2 separate regions of the Homo sapiens genome follow, and region 2 is linked to region 1. A link means that fine-mapping ties the variant in region 1 to the expression of a gene that starts in the linked region. Tissue or cell type: monocytes. Region 1 holds a variant in brackets; the other region holds the start of a gene. All regions are shown on one strand. Distances are between the middles of the regions. Region 1 overlaps LEPROTL1 (leptin receptor overlapping transcript like 1). Region 2 holds the start of SARAF (store-operated calcium entry associated regulatory factor).

What was found.
Region 2: it holds the start of SARAF, and the variant in region 1 is fine-mapped to the expression of SARAF in monocytes (TOPMed, PIP above 0.99). The same link has a PIP of 0.9 or more in blood mononuclear cells.

Annotation. Positions count from the first base shown.
Region 1 is chr8:30,101,832-30,110,173 of GRCh38, forward strand. It overlaps LEPROTL1 (leptin receptor overlapping transcript like 1), which reads left to right. Exons shown (of 4, transcript NM_015344.3): 2 at 67-142; 3 at 2,469-2,655; 4 at 3,915-6,693. The coding sequence ends at 4,031. Among named protein-coding and RNA genes, the nearest start is that of LEPROTL1, 11 kb to the left of the region's middle. The variant G/A (reference allele first, on the strand shown) is at 3,039.
Region 2 is chr8:30,077,997-30,086,338 of GRCh38, forward strand. It overlaps SARAF (store-operated calcium entry associated regulatory factor), which reads right to left and starts at 5,068. Exons shown (of 6, transcript NM_016127.6): 1 at 4,851-5,068. The coding sequence starts at 4,953. RefSeq lists an enhancer at 4,632-4,981 and a silencer at 5,022-5,391.

The DNA.
Region 1 (8,342 bases):
ACTGCTGATATTAATAAAAATAATATTTAATTTATATTCCTGTTGCACTTTTTATTTGCTTTGCAGCTTTGATTAGTTTGTCCTTTGGAGGAGCAATCGGACTGATGTTTTTGATGCTTGGATGTGCCCTTCCAATATACAAGTATGTAAAATGTTTGTCTTTCTGAATATTTAAGGGTAAAATTTTTCTACTTTTAAAGCTTAAAAAAATGTTTTTTTACTACTGTAAAAGTAATGCAGAGAAATGTTCACTTACCAAACACATACCTTTGTAAAAATCACCACTTAAAGTTTGTTTCTAAAGATTTTAGGACACCAAGATGCAAATAATATTTTTGGCTGTTACCTGCTCTTTCACTACTGCTGAGTCTGCAGTGGCAAGATAGCTACACAGTACCTCAGCCCTCCTGCTCAGTTTTTAACATCTATTGATAATACTAATTACAAGAAAATTTAAAATGTCTTTTTGCAAAAAAATACCATAAGCAGTCAAAACACAATTAAAAAAAAAGAGAGAGATGTAAACAATTACTTTCCGGCCGGGTGCGGTGGCTCACACCTGTAATCCCAGCATTTTGGGAGACCAAGGCGGGAGGATTGCCTGAGGTCAGGAGTTCAAGACCAGCCTGGCTAACATGGTGAAACCCCATCTCTACTAAAAATACAAAAAAATAGCCAGGCGTGGTGACACATGCCTGTAGTCCCAGGTACTCGGGAGGCTGAGGCAGGAGAATCGCCTGAACCCAGGAGATGGAGGTTGCGGTGAGCCAAGATCACGCCACTGCACTCCAGCCTGGGTGATAGAGCAAGACTCTGTTTCCAAAAAAAAAAAAAAAATTTCTTTCCTTAGGATAGAAAGAACTTCTCAAAGTTAACATTTTAACATTTAGATAAATTAGAAAAAGATGGACAACTCAATAGAAAAATAAATACAAAAAGAGAACTACAAATTGCTAATAAGCACATAAAAATATCCCCAGCCTCACTCAAAACTAAACAAAATCTATTGACAAAGACAAGAGACAGGGCAAGCAGGGACTCTTTTGTGCTGTGGGGGGAGTACACATAGATAGTTTTCTTGGAGATAAGTTTGCTTGTAGCTCTCAAAGTATATATTCTTTGAGTTAGCCCTTTCACTTGTTAGACTTTCTGATACAAACCCACTTGCAGATGTTTACAAAGATATATTTAGTGGGGGAGAGTATGGATGTTCAAGCAGCCTTGTTTATTTTTTGGTTTTTGTTTTTGTTTTGTTGTTTTATGCGTTATTTATAAGAGCCAAAAAAAATTCTGAAAACATCCTAAATGTCCTTCAAAAGAAAAATGGTTAAATTATAGTAAATCTTTTAATGGAAATACTAGGCAGTCTTAAAAAGAATGAGGAAGAGCTGTAAGTGCTAACATGTAAATATGTTCAAGACATATTGTTAGAAAACTGCAGGGACCCATTCATATTTTAAAGTTTATGTGGAAATGTGGAAGGGTCCCTGAGAAGCTCAATAGGAAAGTGGGCAAGAGGAGATTTGGAACTTTTAGTCTTTACTTTTTGTGCTTTTGTACTGTTTGAATTATTTTTCTTAAGCATATATTCAATTTTTAATTTTTTTTCTTAAAATATTTAGGAAATGGTCAGGCGCAGTGGCTCATGCCTGTAATCCTAGCACTTTGGGAGGCCAAGGTGGGTGGATCACCTGAGGTCAGGAGTTTAAGACCAGCTTAGCCAACATGGTGAAACTCCATCTCCACTAAAAATACAAAAATTAGCCGGGCATGGTGGTGCACGCCTGTAATCCCAGCTAGTCACGGGGGCTGAGGCAGGAGAGTCACTTGAACCCAGGAGGCAGAAGTTGCAGTGAGCCGAGATCATGCCACTGCACTCCAGCCTGGGCAGCAGAGCGAGACTCTGTCTCAAAAAAAAAAAAAAAAAATTTAGGAAACATAAGTAGCTGCTTATCATTAGCCTCTGTACAATCAGATCTCCACCATGATACCTATTTTATTCTATGGTAGTTTTAAGGGCATCTATTTCTTTTTAACTTTTTATTTTGAAACAATTTTAGATTCTGAAGAAGTTGTGAAAATCATACACAGAGGTCCCCTGTACCCTCCACACAGCCTGCCAGAGTCATAAGATCTTACATAACCATAGTTATCAAAACCAGGAAATGACTGTGGTACAATACAGTTAACTAGATGTAGAGTAAAAGCCATCTATTTTTATTGTGATAAATTCTATATTCTGACTGAAAGTGTTCTTACTTTTAGCTTCTTTTCTGTATTTTGATTTCTGTAATTTGGGAGTTCCTCGTGTTGTAAGGGAAGTTTAGGGTTGTTTCAGCTTTATGCTAAGGTTGGGTATCATCCATTAGAAGTCAAGCGATTGAATCTTGATTTTTTAAAAAGACCATATTTTGTGTGTAGGAAAATGACATAGCAAAAATTACATTAACTTATTTTTCTTTTTCTAGCAAATACTGGCCCCTCTTTGTTCTATTTTTTTACATCCTTTCACCTATTCCATACTGCATAGCAAGAAGATTAGTGGATGATACAGATGCTATGAGTAACGCTTGTAAGGAACTTGCCATCTTTCTTACAACGGGCATTGTCGTGTCAGCTTTTGGACTCCCTATTGTATTTGCCAGAGCACATCTGGTAAGTGAATATATTCTTCCATTAATGATTTTATATTGAACATGTGTTACATTTTTCTCAAGCAAAGTTTTTGTTAATGACATGAAAAGAGGTGAAAGACATAAGAGCCTAGAAGATAGAGATTAAAATCTCACTTTATTGTTTGTTCTTGTTAACTAATAAAAGTGATATTGGAGAACGTGGCTTGGATCTGCAGCAGCTGTTGGCTTGCTAATACTTTTTTTTTTCTTTTTTTTTTTTTTTTGAGATGGAGTCTTGCTCTGTCGCCCAGCCTGGAGTGCAGTGGCGTGATCTCACCTCACTGCAAGCTCTGCCTCCCGGGTTCACGCCATTCTCCTGCCTCAGCCTCCCGAGTAGCTGGGACTACAGGTGCCCGCCACCAC[G/A]CCCAGCTGATATTTTTTGTGTTTTTAGTGGAGACGAGGTTTCACCGTGTTAGCCAGAATGGTCTCGACCTCCTGACCTCGTGATCCGTCCGCCTCGGCCTCCCAAAGTGCTGGGATTACAGGCATGAGCCACCGCACCCGTCTGGCTTGCTAATACTTAACTGTCAGAGTTGAGCATATCAACTCCCCCAGTGCTGAACAACCCAGGCCTATCCTGTAAAACCTAAAATATGGAAGACCTGAGAAGGTGCATGTGCTCTGCAGGCAGAAAAGCACTGAAGAGGGGAAGGGGCTGGCTACGGGTACTCAGTTCTTCCTCCCAAACTCACTGATCCACGCGCCTTCATCTCTGGGGAGGTAGAGAAGACAGCCATATGGAGAAGGCAATTGTTTTCCCACCCCTTCAAAAGAATGTACATGGGTGTGTTTCCATCTGTGATATGCTAAAATTTAATCTACTCTAGATAGATTTTTATATTAAGGAAGAGTAAGCACATTCCTTTATAAACAGAAACTTGTAGAATTTTATGCTGCTTCTTCATAGCCCAGAAGTCAAGCTTGTTTTTGAATGGTCATTTCATGACTTTCTTTTTAAAGGAACCAAAGGTAAATGAAAATACTAGTATAAAAGTACCACTTTTATACTATAAATATATTTATACTGTATATATTTATATATATTTATACTATATATTTTTTTACTATATATATTTATACTATATATATTTATAAGTATGTGTTCAGCACTGTGACAATTATTGTTACAAGGCATGCTTCTTTTAGATCATAATTGGGATACAACTAGAGCCTTGATTTTTTTTTTTATTTTCCTTTCGTTTTTCATGCCTGTTGACTGAGTGTATCTTATTTCCATAGATTGAGTGGGGAGCTTGTGCACTTGTTCTCACAGGAAACACAGTCATCTTTGCAACTATACTAGGCTTTTTCTTGGTCTTTGGAAGCAATGACGACTTCAGCTGGCAGCAGTGGTGAAAAGAAATTACTGAACTATTGTCAAATGGACTTCCTGTCATTTGTTGGCCATTCACGCACACAGGAGATGGGGCAGTTAATGCTGAATGGTATAGCAAGCCTCTTGGGGGTATTTTAGGTGCTCCCTTCTCACTTTTATTGTAAGCATACTATTTTCACAGAGACTTGCTGAAGGATTAAAAGGATTTTCTCTTTTGGAAAAGCTTGACTGATTTCACACTTATCTATAGTATGCTTTTTGTGGTGTCCTGCTGAATTTAAATATTTATGTGTTTTTCCTGTTAGGTTGATTTTTTTTGGAATCAATATGCAATGTTAAACACTTTTTTAATGTAATCATTTGCATTGGTTAGGAATTCAGAATTCCGCCGGCTCTATTACTGGTCAAGTACATCTTTTCTCTTAAAATTATTTAGCCTCCATTATTACAAAAAATTATAAAAATAAGTTTTCAGTCAGTCAGGATGACATCACTCCCAATGTTATGCAGACATACAGACGGTTGGCATACGTTATAGACTGTATACTCAGTGCAAATATAGCTGCATTTATACCTCAGAGGGGCCAAGTGTTAATGCCCATGCCCTCCGTTAAGGGTTGTTGGTTTTACTGGTAGACAGATGTTTTGTGGATTGAAAATTATTTTATGGAATTGCTACAGAGGAGTGCTTTTCTTCTCAATTGTTAGAAGAATTTATGTTAAACTTTAAGGTAAGGGTGTAAAAACATTTTTGAGATAAGGTTTTTATTTATGTTTATTATTGTTAGAGTGAGTTGCAATGTGGGAAGAAATGACATTGAAATTCCAGTTTTTGAATCCTGTTTCTATTTATAAGTGAAATTTGTGATCTCCTATCAACCTTTCATGTTTTACCCTGTTAAAATGGACATACATGGAACCACTACTGATGAGGGACAGTTGTATGTTTGCATCATATATGCCAGAAAACCTTCCTCTGCTTCCTCCTTTTGACTTATTTGGTATGTTGTATATATTACATAAAATAACTTTTCAAATATAGTTTAATAACACTTAGAAGTGTTTACTTACCTGGAAAATAATTGCTATGCCGTACATTCAGAGTGCCCCCTCCCCTGCAAGGCCTTGCCATGATTAACAAGTAACTTGTTAGTCTTACAGATAATTCATGCATTAACAGTTTAAGATTTAGACCATGGTAATAGTAGTTCTTATTCTCTAAGGTTATATCATATGTAATTTAAAAGTATTTTTAAGACAAGTTTCCTGTATACCTCTGAACTGTTTTGATTTTGAGTTCATCATGATAGATCTGCTGTTTCCTTATAAAAGGCATTTGTTGTGTGAGTTAATGCAAAGTAGCCAAGTCCAGCTATATAGCAGCTTCAGAAACATACCTGACCAAAAAATTCCCAGTAACCAGGCATGATCAATTTATAGTGGTCGTTTACATCTAATAATTATCAGGACTTTTTTCAGGAGTGGGTTATAAAAACATTCAAGTTGGTCTGACAGTATTTTGTTAAGGATATTTGTTTGTATGTTTATTCAGTATACTTACATAAAAATTATTTCGCCATCAGCCAAAACTCAGTAATCATGACAGCTGTCTGTTGTTTTATGAAGTTTATTTCTCAAGAAAATGGGAATAAATTTGGGATTTGTTCAGCTTTTTTACTAAAGATGCCTAAAGCCACAGGTTTTATTGCCTAACTTAAGCCATGACTTTTAGATATGAGATGACGGGAAGCAGGACGAAATATCGGCGTGTGGCTGGAGCCTTCCCACTGGAGGCTGAAAGTGGCTTGTGGTATTATAATGTTCAGATTTCAAGAGGAAGGTGCAGGTACACATGAGTTAGAGAGCTGGTGAGACAGTTGGGAACTCTTTGTGCTTGTGATCTACTGGACTTTTTTTTGCAGGAAGTGCATTCTCTGGTCCTTCCCTATTTTCTGTTCTGGATGTCAGTGCAGTGCACTGCTACTGTTTTATCCACTTGGCCACAGACTTTTTCTAACAGCTGCGTATTATTTCTATATACTAACTGCATTGGCAGCATTGTGTCTTTGACCTTGTATACTAGCTTGACATAGTGCTGTCTCTGATTTCTAGGCTAGTTACTTGAGATATGAATTTTCCATAGAATATGCACTGATACAATATTACCATTCTTCTATGGAAAGAAAACTTTTGATGATGAAACAATAAAGATTTTAAATATCTATTTTAGTTTGTGGGTGTTTTTGAAATGAAAATATATGGCACACTTTCATTCTGAAGTGCATTAACATTCTAATAAGGTGATGTAAAGCAAGATGACATTGGTGTAATGTTAGAGTTGCAGAAGTTTCCATTCCAAAATAAAATGGAAACCATAGTTACAGATATTACAATGCAGCCCTGTAATTTTGAGCTGTAGTAAAAGGATTGGTAATCTGGGAAGTAGAATTTTTACAAAATCTTTTACAAAAATAGTCATAAAAGGTTTTGTTGACATTTAAGACTACTACTGATCTAAAGGCAAGGTCCTACTTCTTAAATTTTCAGAACATTTTTATGACTTCTTATTATGTATTTATTACCACTCATTATTATAGCATGTTACTTTTTGCAAACATTTTAAACAAAAAATATTTCTGTTTGGTACACTGTGAAGAGAGAAAAGTACTGTTCTGTATTTTCAAATATTAGTCGTGTCCCAAATTGTCCTAATTATAATCTTATCATATACTTTAAAAAGTTTAGGCTGTGGACACTAAATGTCTGCTCTAATATGATTTTGGGGACATTGTCAATACAGATTTTTTTTTTTTTTTTGAGACTTGCTTTGTGCCCAGGCTGGAGTGCAGTGGTACGATCTTGGCTCACTGCAACTGCTAGGTTCAAGCGATTCTCATACCTCAGCCTCCTACGTAGCTGGGATTACAGGCATAGGTCACCACACCTGGCTAATTTTTGTATTTCTTGTAGAAACATGGTTTTGCCATGCTGGCCACACTGGTCTCAAACTCCTGGCCTCAAGTTATCGCCCTGCCGCTCAGCCTTCTGAGTAGCTGGGATTATAGGCCTGCACCACCACGCCTGGCTAATTTTCGTATTTTTTGTAGAGATGGGGTTTTGCCATGTTGGCCACGCTGGTCTCAAACTCCTGGCCTCAAGCCATCACCACCACAACCCCCCTCAAACCACCCCCCCGCCCCGAAAAAAAGTGCTGGGATTACAGGCGTGAGCCACCACACTTTGGCCAAAATAATCCAGATTTCTAAAGTCTAGGATATTTATATTGAATGTGACTAGATTTTTAAGTTTCAGATAACTTTTAATCAATGCACCAAAGTTAACAAGCAACACAACGTTATTGTTAAGTGGTATGTGTGTTTTAGATCCCAGGATGCTTTATGATGTATACGATTGGTGGGAAATTGAAATTCGTATTTCTTCTCTATAAGCTTGTATTGCCCTTTCTTTCAGTGAAGATTAGGAGCTCTGATTTTATTACAGGTCTGTTCATTTTATGGCATTCTCAAGGAAGAAAACATGTCCTGTAGGTAAATATTTTAGATCAATGAAGCTTAGCTTACTAAGAACTAATGTTTGTTTTACTTTAATCATTTGATGAAAGTATTAAATGGATTGTACACATGTGCTTTCTTAGAATATATTAAAACACTTTAATTTTTCCTTGGTAATTTAGGACTATCATCATAAACTATTTCCCCCCCATTGTAAGTGGCTGCCGACCTGTATTTTTCTGGAATTGTGTTTTTGATCCTTTTCATACAACTGAGTATTTGTTTCTAGCACCCCTTAACTTATTTTGTTTCCAAGTTGCTGACTTACAGTATATTAGGAAGAGTGGAAAGTGGTCAAGAAAAAAATAAGGCAACCAAGCTTATTAAATCAATTATGTAACATTTCTGTACACAGTACATCAGTGGACTTAATTAGGGTGCCTCCTACCTCTTACACAAATGAAATGCTTTGTGACAGGTATTCTTCCTCTTGAAAGGCTTTTTTAAGAAAAAAATAATTTTTAACTGTATACTAGATAATCTGAGATTGCAAAAGGAGCACCAGATAAGGGAGGTGTTACCATGCTGTGCAGCAGAAGAAGGCTTATAATTAAGTTTACTACACTTTAATGTTGGGGTTATTCTGAGCTCAAGATACTCATAGACCTTTGTCTGATTTCCAGGGTCTTATATCTCACTTCACCCTTTGTGTTTAGTTACTGAAAGTTTAGGGATGAAGATAGATTTACAGTTTATTTTTACAAGAAACTTTATACTGTATGCTTTGCTTCCAGTCTCTTGAAGATTATTTGAATTCAT
Region 2 (8,342 bases), 24 kb before region 1:
AGGCATGGTGGCGGGCACCTGTAATCCCAGCTACTCAGGAAGATGAGACAGGAGAATCGCTTGAACCCGGGAAGCAGAGGTTGCAGCGAGCCGAGATGGTGCCACTGCACTCCAGCCTGGGGGACAGAGCTAGACTCCGTCTCAAAAAAAAAAAAAAGAAAGAAAGAAAAAAGACAGTAGGAGGAAAAAAAAAAAAAAGAAAGAAAGAAAATTACCAGTTCAGGACCAGTTCAGAAAGTCCAAAAATCCAACAAGGGCTTCTGAAAGAATGAACAAGGGAATCTGATTAGACAAACTCCAGGCTGTAATTCAAGAAAAGTTCCCACACTGAAGGACTTGAGTTGTCATACTGAAAGGGCCCAACAAATACCCAGGCCTGAGAAACAGACCACACAAAGGCACACGAAAAGTAAATTTTAGAACACTGAAGACAAAAAAAGATTCTACAAATTGCCAGAAGAATAGGGAGAAAACAAGCCATATAGAAAAGATAAGACTTAGAAAAGCTTCAGGTATCTCAACAGGATAGAAAAAGAAAATGGAGAAATATATTCAAAAACTCTAAAGGAAAAAGTCTGGCTGGGTTTGCCAACCATCGCTTTGCTAATGGTGGAACAAACTGATGTTACAACATCTCCTATGATGTATTTCCCACAAGTATTTAATATGAATCTAATCAATCTAATAAACTTAAGGTCAATACCCTATCTATATAAAAAATATATATAGAGAGAGAGACCTAAATATACTTCCAACCAGGAACCCAATAGGGTTTTTTGGGGAAAGAAATTATGTTAAAGGTCCTGTGGACAATTTTTTTTTGAAAAAGAACACATAGGTTACCAGATAGTAAAGGTTACTATAAAATTATTATCATCAGCCAGGCACGGTGGCTCACGTCTGTAACCCCAGCACTTTGGGAGGCCAAGGAGGGCAGATCACCTAAGGTCAGGAGTTCGAGATCAGCCTGGACAACATGGTGAAACCCCATCTCTACTAATAATACAAAAATTAGCTGGACGTGGTGGCATACGCCCGTAGTCCCAGCTACTTGGGAGGCTGAGGCAGGAGAATCACTTGAATCCAGGAGGTGGAGGTTGCAGTGAGCTGATATTGCTACCACTGCACTCCAGCCTGGGCGACAAGAGTGAAACTCCATCTCAAAAAAAAAAAAAAAAAAAAAGATTATAATCAAAATAGTAGGGAATTGGAACAGAGACAAGGAAATTGTGAAACAAAAGAAAGATCAGAAATAAATCAAGATACATTTGGGAATTCAGTAAGATGAAGTGGTCTTTTTAATTTAGTGGATAAAAGATGTCTTCTTTAATAAATAGCACTGGCATAATTGACTATGCAGCCACAAGAAAATCCACCTAAAGCTATATAAAAATTTAATTCCACATGGGCTACAGATCTAAAATTTCCAAGAACTATATTCAAATAAACCATGCTACATTAAACACAAACTACTACCTCCTCATACATAAAAAATAAGACAATGAAAATGTTCAATGGTTTAGAAAAATCAGACTGTATTAATCAACTAAATAACAGAAATAATAAATTGAATTTATTGTAACAGAGTTGCAATAATGCAAAGAACACTGAACTAAGTTGGTGTCACTAACTGGCTGTGACTTTGGCCAAGGCATTTAATTTACCTGTGTAGAAGTTTCCTCACCTACAAAATTAAAATATTATCAACCTTGAAATTTGTTGTGAAGCTTAGATATAATTTATTATCTGGCTGAGTACTTGAAGCATAACAGGTGATCAGGTATGATAAATATTACTGAAAGTTTTAAGATGGAATAGCATTACCATAATCCTATAGCATCTTTCTTCCCTAGAGATTCTTAAGGTCCAAGAACAAAATTCTAATACCCACGCCCCACTAGTTAGATCAGTCAAGGGACACAGGAGCTCCCTGAACTCCAGACTCATAAATCAAAATCACGGCAGGTCTCAAACAAGATAAACAAAACCAAACTCCCCTAAACCTGATCATCCCACATTCTTCCACATCTCAGGAAATGGTTAACTCCATGCTTCTAGTTGCTCAAGCCAAAAACCTTGGACTTCTCATCTTCTCTCCTCTCACTCCTACATCTGATCCTTCAGAAGATCATGTTAGCTCCACCTTCCAAACAGGTGACAAGAGAATCCAGCTACTCTAACCAGCTCTCTACTGCTCCTGCCCTGGGCCAAGCGGTCACCACTCTAAGAACTTACTGTACAATATTAAAATAGATAGCAATATATATTAATTCACTGGTTTCCCTGCTTCCCTCCTACCCTCTTCGGTCTGTTTTCCACAGAGCAGCCCAAATGAGCCTTTAAAGATATAAGTAATTTCAGGTCATTTACTCCTCCTCCCCACTTCAGGTTTCCAGTCAAATGTCACCCTAACAGTGACTTCCCTGACCAATGTACGTTTTTTAAGTCTCCACTTCTGCCCGCACACCATGTCCTCCTTACGCTGTTTATCATACACGGTGCATACCAATTTTCACAATATAGCATGTTATTTACATGTTTATCTGTTTATTGTCTATTTCTCCCCAATAGAGGTAAAGTCCTTGGAGGCAAGACACTGTTTTGTTCACTGCTATATTCCCAACACCCGGAAGAGTAACTTAATATAAGATTACATTCAATAAGGAATTTTGAAAATTCATTGGTAATCTCTTTAGAATGGTGCTAATTTTTTTTTCCAGACAAATTACTGCTCAATGTGAGCTAAAGTAATGGCATCCAAGTCAAACAAAAGATAAATTAGGGAGCCGATTAATGCTTTAGTAAAGGACTTAATAAATAGTATGTCAATAAAGTATCTTCATTTAAAAAGTTCCTCAAAGTGCCGGGTGCGGTGGCTCACGCCTGTAATCCCAGCACTTTGGGAGGCCAAGGCGGGCGGATCACCTGAGGTTGGGAGTTCAAGACCAGCCTGACCAACATGGAGAAACCCTGTCTCTACTAAAAATACAAAATTTGCCGGGCATGGTGGCACATGCCTGTAATCCCAGCTACTCGGGAGGCTGAGGCAGGAAAATCGCTTGAACCCAGGAGGCAGAGGTTGCGGTGAGCCAAGATCGCGCCATTGCACTCTAGCCTGGGCGACAAGAGTGAAACTGTCTCAAAAAAACAAAACAAAACAAAAAAGTTCCTCAAAGTAAACTTTGAAGTAGAATTTACATAAAACAATTGAGTTTACTCTGCAAAATATTGTGGTGCTTTGTGTTCCAGAACAATAGTTTTACAGCGTAGATAAACCAGGAAGTGGTTCATCTTTAATTTAAATTTGGTTCTTCTTTCATAGTTTTTATAGTTCTTCTGGCTCTTCAACTGTAAACTTCCTTTATTAAATTTATTTACGAACTGATTCAAAGTTCAACAAATTAAAGTTTCATTCTAGGTTTTCACTTGTAATTCTGATCAAGTCTCCCACTCATACACAGCTTTCTAGAAATACAAAAGAAAAACGTACAGACATTTAAATACAACTTGGCTTTTTATTTTTGGTAATAAAATGTCCACATCAAATGACTACTCAACGTGATGTGCTTGCAAATAGCACCTTCTCTCTCATTTCAGCATGTAAGAATAGGCTATTATAGAAATAAACCTGTTGCTTAAATTCGACAATGCAGGCATTTCCAATCACCAAATCACAAAGGCAATATGCTTTCCATGCCATCTTTACTTCGCAAAGCAAAAATGATGTTGTTTTCATTTTTTTTTTTTTTTACAGAATTCCAAAGTAACAGCATGCGTCATTTATTACATGGAAAAAGTCAAAATCTGTATCTAAGTATATAGACATATACGTATTAATTGCACGGAATATTACTGATCCCATGAAAATTCTTTAGACAATTTTAATACTGTACTGACATAAAAGAACCTCTTTCCTAAAACCCACTTATCATGTACCATCACTAAAAAAAACCGAGAAAATTATTTTTTAAATTCTTCTCTACGGTGAAAGCCAATGGGAAGAGCTGGTGCCGCGCGATGTACATCACTGCAATCGTCAGATAAGAGGCAGCGGTTCTCATAAAGACGCGGTGGCTCACGCCTGTAATCCCAGCACTTTGGGAGGATGAAGGCGGGTGGATCACGAGGTCAGGAGGTCGAGACCAGCCTGGCCAACATAGTAAAACCCCGTCTCTACTAAAAATACAAAAAAATAGCCAGGCATGGTGGTGGGCACCCGTAATCTCAGCTACCGGTGAGGCCGAGGCAGGAGAATCTCTTGAACCCAGGAGGCGGAGGTTGCAGTGAGCCGAGATCACGTCATTGCAGTGCGGCCGGGGCGACAATGTGAGACTCCGACTCAAAAAAAAAAAAAAGAGTGCAATCTGCGATTCTGCTAACAGACCTGCGAGGTCTGCAGCCCTGTCCGCTAAGGGTGACTCAGAGACTGCCAGTGGCAGGCAACGGCCGGCGATAGCAACAGGCAGCCATGACAACAGCAGGCCACGATGACATCACACAGCCATAACAACAAAGCAGATGCGCAGGTGAGTGTCCAGCTCTCCAGTTATACTCAGAGATGAGAAAGACGACAATGGGCAAATTCCGGGAGTCCGGGGCAGGGAGAAAGGGGACCTTAAGGATCTCCAGCCGTCCCGCCCCGCCCACTCGAGCAGTCCCTACCCGCCTCCCAAGACGCCTGGGAAGAGCAGTGGAACCAGGGAGAGCACGAACAGCAAAGAGGTCAGACATGGGGAATCCGGGCACCCAGGCTCCGGGAAGACGGCGCACGGAAACGCAGGGGAGCCTGCACCGGCTGACGGCGGCGGAAAAGGGCGAACGAAGCGCCTGAGGGCCCTGGCAGCACTCACCAGGGTCGTTCCAGCCCAGGGCAGGGCCCGCGGTCAGCAGAAACAAATGCAAGCCGAGGAGCAAGCAGTACCCGGCCGCTCCCGGCCCGCAGGCTGCGGCCATGGCGCTCGATGAAGATGGCGCCGGGCTGCCAGACGCCTACGGGCCGAACCTGGGTGCGGTAGCGCGCGCGACGCTGCGCAGCTACACCGCTACCCCTGGCGGCGGCGAAGGAACGGCCCGACTGCAGAGCTGCAGCCGCAACGGATCCGTGCGCCAACCCTACGTCACTGCCGCTGCGGCCCGTGGGGCTCAGTGAGTGGCCGCCGTGGGCCCCCGCCCCTGGAGCACAGCGCGGCTTGGGGCGGGGCGAGGCGGTGTGGGCGGGGCCAAGGGCCTGGGGAGGCACGGCTGGAGGCGGGTTGGAGGCGTGGCGCCGCGGTGTGGGCGGGGCCGAGGGCCTGTCGCCGCCGCGCCCGCGGGCGGGGCGAGGGCAGCGCGCAGCTTTGTTGTGTCTCGTCTGAGATTCGGGAAGCTTCTGTGCGTAGGCGATGCAGTTTGAGAGGCTGAAAACGTCACGACGCGAAATCTAAGAAATGTAGTCAAATTATGTATTATTAAAACCTCAATAATTGTACCAAGGGTAGTTCTGTGCTTTATTCAGCTCTATGTGTTCAGCACTTAGCATAGCGCTTGGTACATGGTTAGTGTTCTATGACTGGTTGCTAAATACAGAGAAGATTCAAGCGAAAAGTAACAGGGAAATACATTGTCTGGTTTCAAGGCTCAGAACCTTTACATGGTTCCTTGCGCATGGAGGCCGGAAGACTATAAAATGTCAAGAGGAGAAAATATCGTCTGAATGAAGAACCAGCCAGAGAAAACAGTTCTCTGGGCTTTTGAGGTCTAGCAGGCTTGGGTTTCTTTCATTCATTCATTCATTCATTCATTCATTCATTCATTCAATGAATATATGTTGAATACCTAATACGCACCAGGCACTGTTTTAGGCATGGATGGTACAGACAAGATCCCTGTACTCATTGAAATAGAATAGGACAAACGACATACCAATTAAACAACAAAAATAATAGGTAATGATAGGTAATAACATTGATGAAAAACAGGGTGATATAATGGAGCCTGGGGACACAACTTCAGGGAGGGCCTTGCTGAGGAAGTGGTTTTTGAAGCTTGGGACCTGAATGATGAGAAAGAACTAGCCGTACAAAGATCAGGGGACTCATCTTCCCATCTGGGGAACAGTGGATGCAAAAGCCCTAACTTTGTGTTTCGAGGAAGAGTTATTTGGTCAGATCCTATAAAGAGTTCAGTCCCACAAGATGGCCCCAACTTCAGACATCAATCACAAGTCTCAGGTTGTGACCTATGCTTCTGACCAACCAGCTATAAATTAGGGTTTCCAGGCCGGGCGTGGTGGCTCATGCCTGTAATCCCAGCATTTTGGAAGGCCAAGGCAGGTGAATCGCCTGAGGTCAGGACTTTAAGACCAGCCTGGCCAGCATGGCAAAACCCCACCTCTACTAAAAATAGGAAAAATAGCTGGGCGTGGTGGTGCACACCTGTAATCCCAGCTATTTGGGAGGCTGAGGCAAGAGAATCGCTTGAACCTGGGAGGCGAAAGTTGCAGTGAGTCAAGACTGCCCCACTGCACCTGGACCATGGAGAGAGACTCCCTCTCAACAAATAAATTGGGGTTTTCATAACCCCCCATCTTGAGTTCCATAATTTGCTAGAATGGCTCACAGAACTCAAAAAAACACTTTATGTTTACCAGATTATTATATTGAGCACCTATTAGTACCTAACAGTACCTGCCAGGCACTGTTATCAGTATTGGGGATACAGCAGTGAATAAAACAAAATTTGGGGGACAAGAGGCAAACAAGGCCATAACTGAAGCAAAGTAAGTTAGGGGAAGAGTGGAATAAGAGATGGCAGAGCAGTGGGGCCTCGGCATGGAACCAACCAATGCTGGGACCAAGGACTGAAATAAGAGATAATAGAGAATCTATGCTCAACATGTTAAGTTTGAGGTGACTATTAGGCATCCAGGTAGACGTGTCAAATAAATAGATAAACTGTAAAAGTCTGAAGTTCAAAACTAAGGTAAATTTGGTAGTTATGTTGTAAATATAAAGATAGCATTTAATGTCATGATGCTATTGTTTGAATGTGTCCCCCAAAGCTCATGTGTTGGAAACTTATTCCCCAAAGCAATAGTGTTGAGAGGGGGGACTCTTAAGGGGTGATTAGGTTATGAGGGCAGAGCTCTTAATGCTATTATCACAGGAGTGGGTTAGTTATTGGGGAGTGGGTTCCCGATAAAAGGGATGAGTTCAGCTCCCTTTCTCTTTTGCCTACCACCGTGAAATGACACAGCAGGAAGCTCCCCACCAGATGCAGGCCCCTGGACCTAGGATTTCCCAGCCTCCAGAACCATAAGAAATAAATCTCTATACTTTATAAATTTCCCAGTCTCAGGTATTCTGTTATAGCAACACAAAATGAACTAAGACATGTGGGAAGAGACACAGTAACATGAGAGAATTGAGATACCACAAAAAAGGAGGCCCAGGCTATGGAAACACTAACATTTGAACCTCAAGCAGAAGATTCTAGAAAGAATCTGAGAAGTAACCTCTGGTGAAGAAGGAGGAAGAACTAGGACAATAGGATATGGTAATTGAGAGAAAGAAAGAATGGTCAACAGTGTCCACTGTTGCTGAAAGCTTGAAGCAAAATTTGGTCTCTGAATTTTGCAATGTAGAAATCACTAATTACCTTAACAAGAGAATGTTTGTTATTTTAGATTCCCACCATGTACCATGTACAGTTCTGGACAGTCATGAACAAAAGATGAAAGGTTGTTATAATAAACATTCTAGTGGGAGAGGTAGCCAACAAATCATGTCATTTCAAATAAATAAGTGCTTTGGGCCAGGCACGGTGGCTCACACCTGTAATCTCAGCACTCTGGGAAGCCGAGGCTCAGGATCACTTGAGACCAGGAGTTTGAGGCCAATCTGGGCAACATAGTAAGACCCCATCTCCACAAAAAATTGTTTTTAAAAAATTAGCCAGATGTGGCCAGGCACAGTGGCTCACGCCTGTAATCCCAGCACTTTGGGAGGCCGAGGTAGGCAGATCATGAAGTCAGGAGATCGAGACCATCTTGGCTAACACAGTGAAACCCCGTCTCTACTAAAAATACAAAAAATTAGCTGGGCATGGTGGCGGGTGCCTAAGTCCCAGCTACTCAGGAGGCTGAGGCAGGAGAATGGTGTGAACCCGAGAGGCGGAGCTTGCAGTGAGCCAAGATCGCACCACTGCACTCCAGCCTGGGCGAAAGAGTGAGACTCCGTCTCAAAAAAAAAAAAAAAATAGCCAGATGTGGTGGCATGTGCCTGTAGTCCCAGCCACTCAAGAGGCTGAGGTGGGAGGATCACTTGAGCCCTGGAGGTTGAGGCTGCAGCAAGCCATGACTGCAT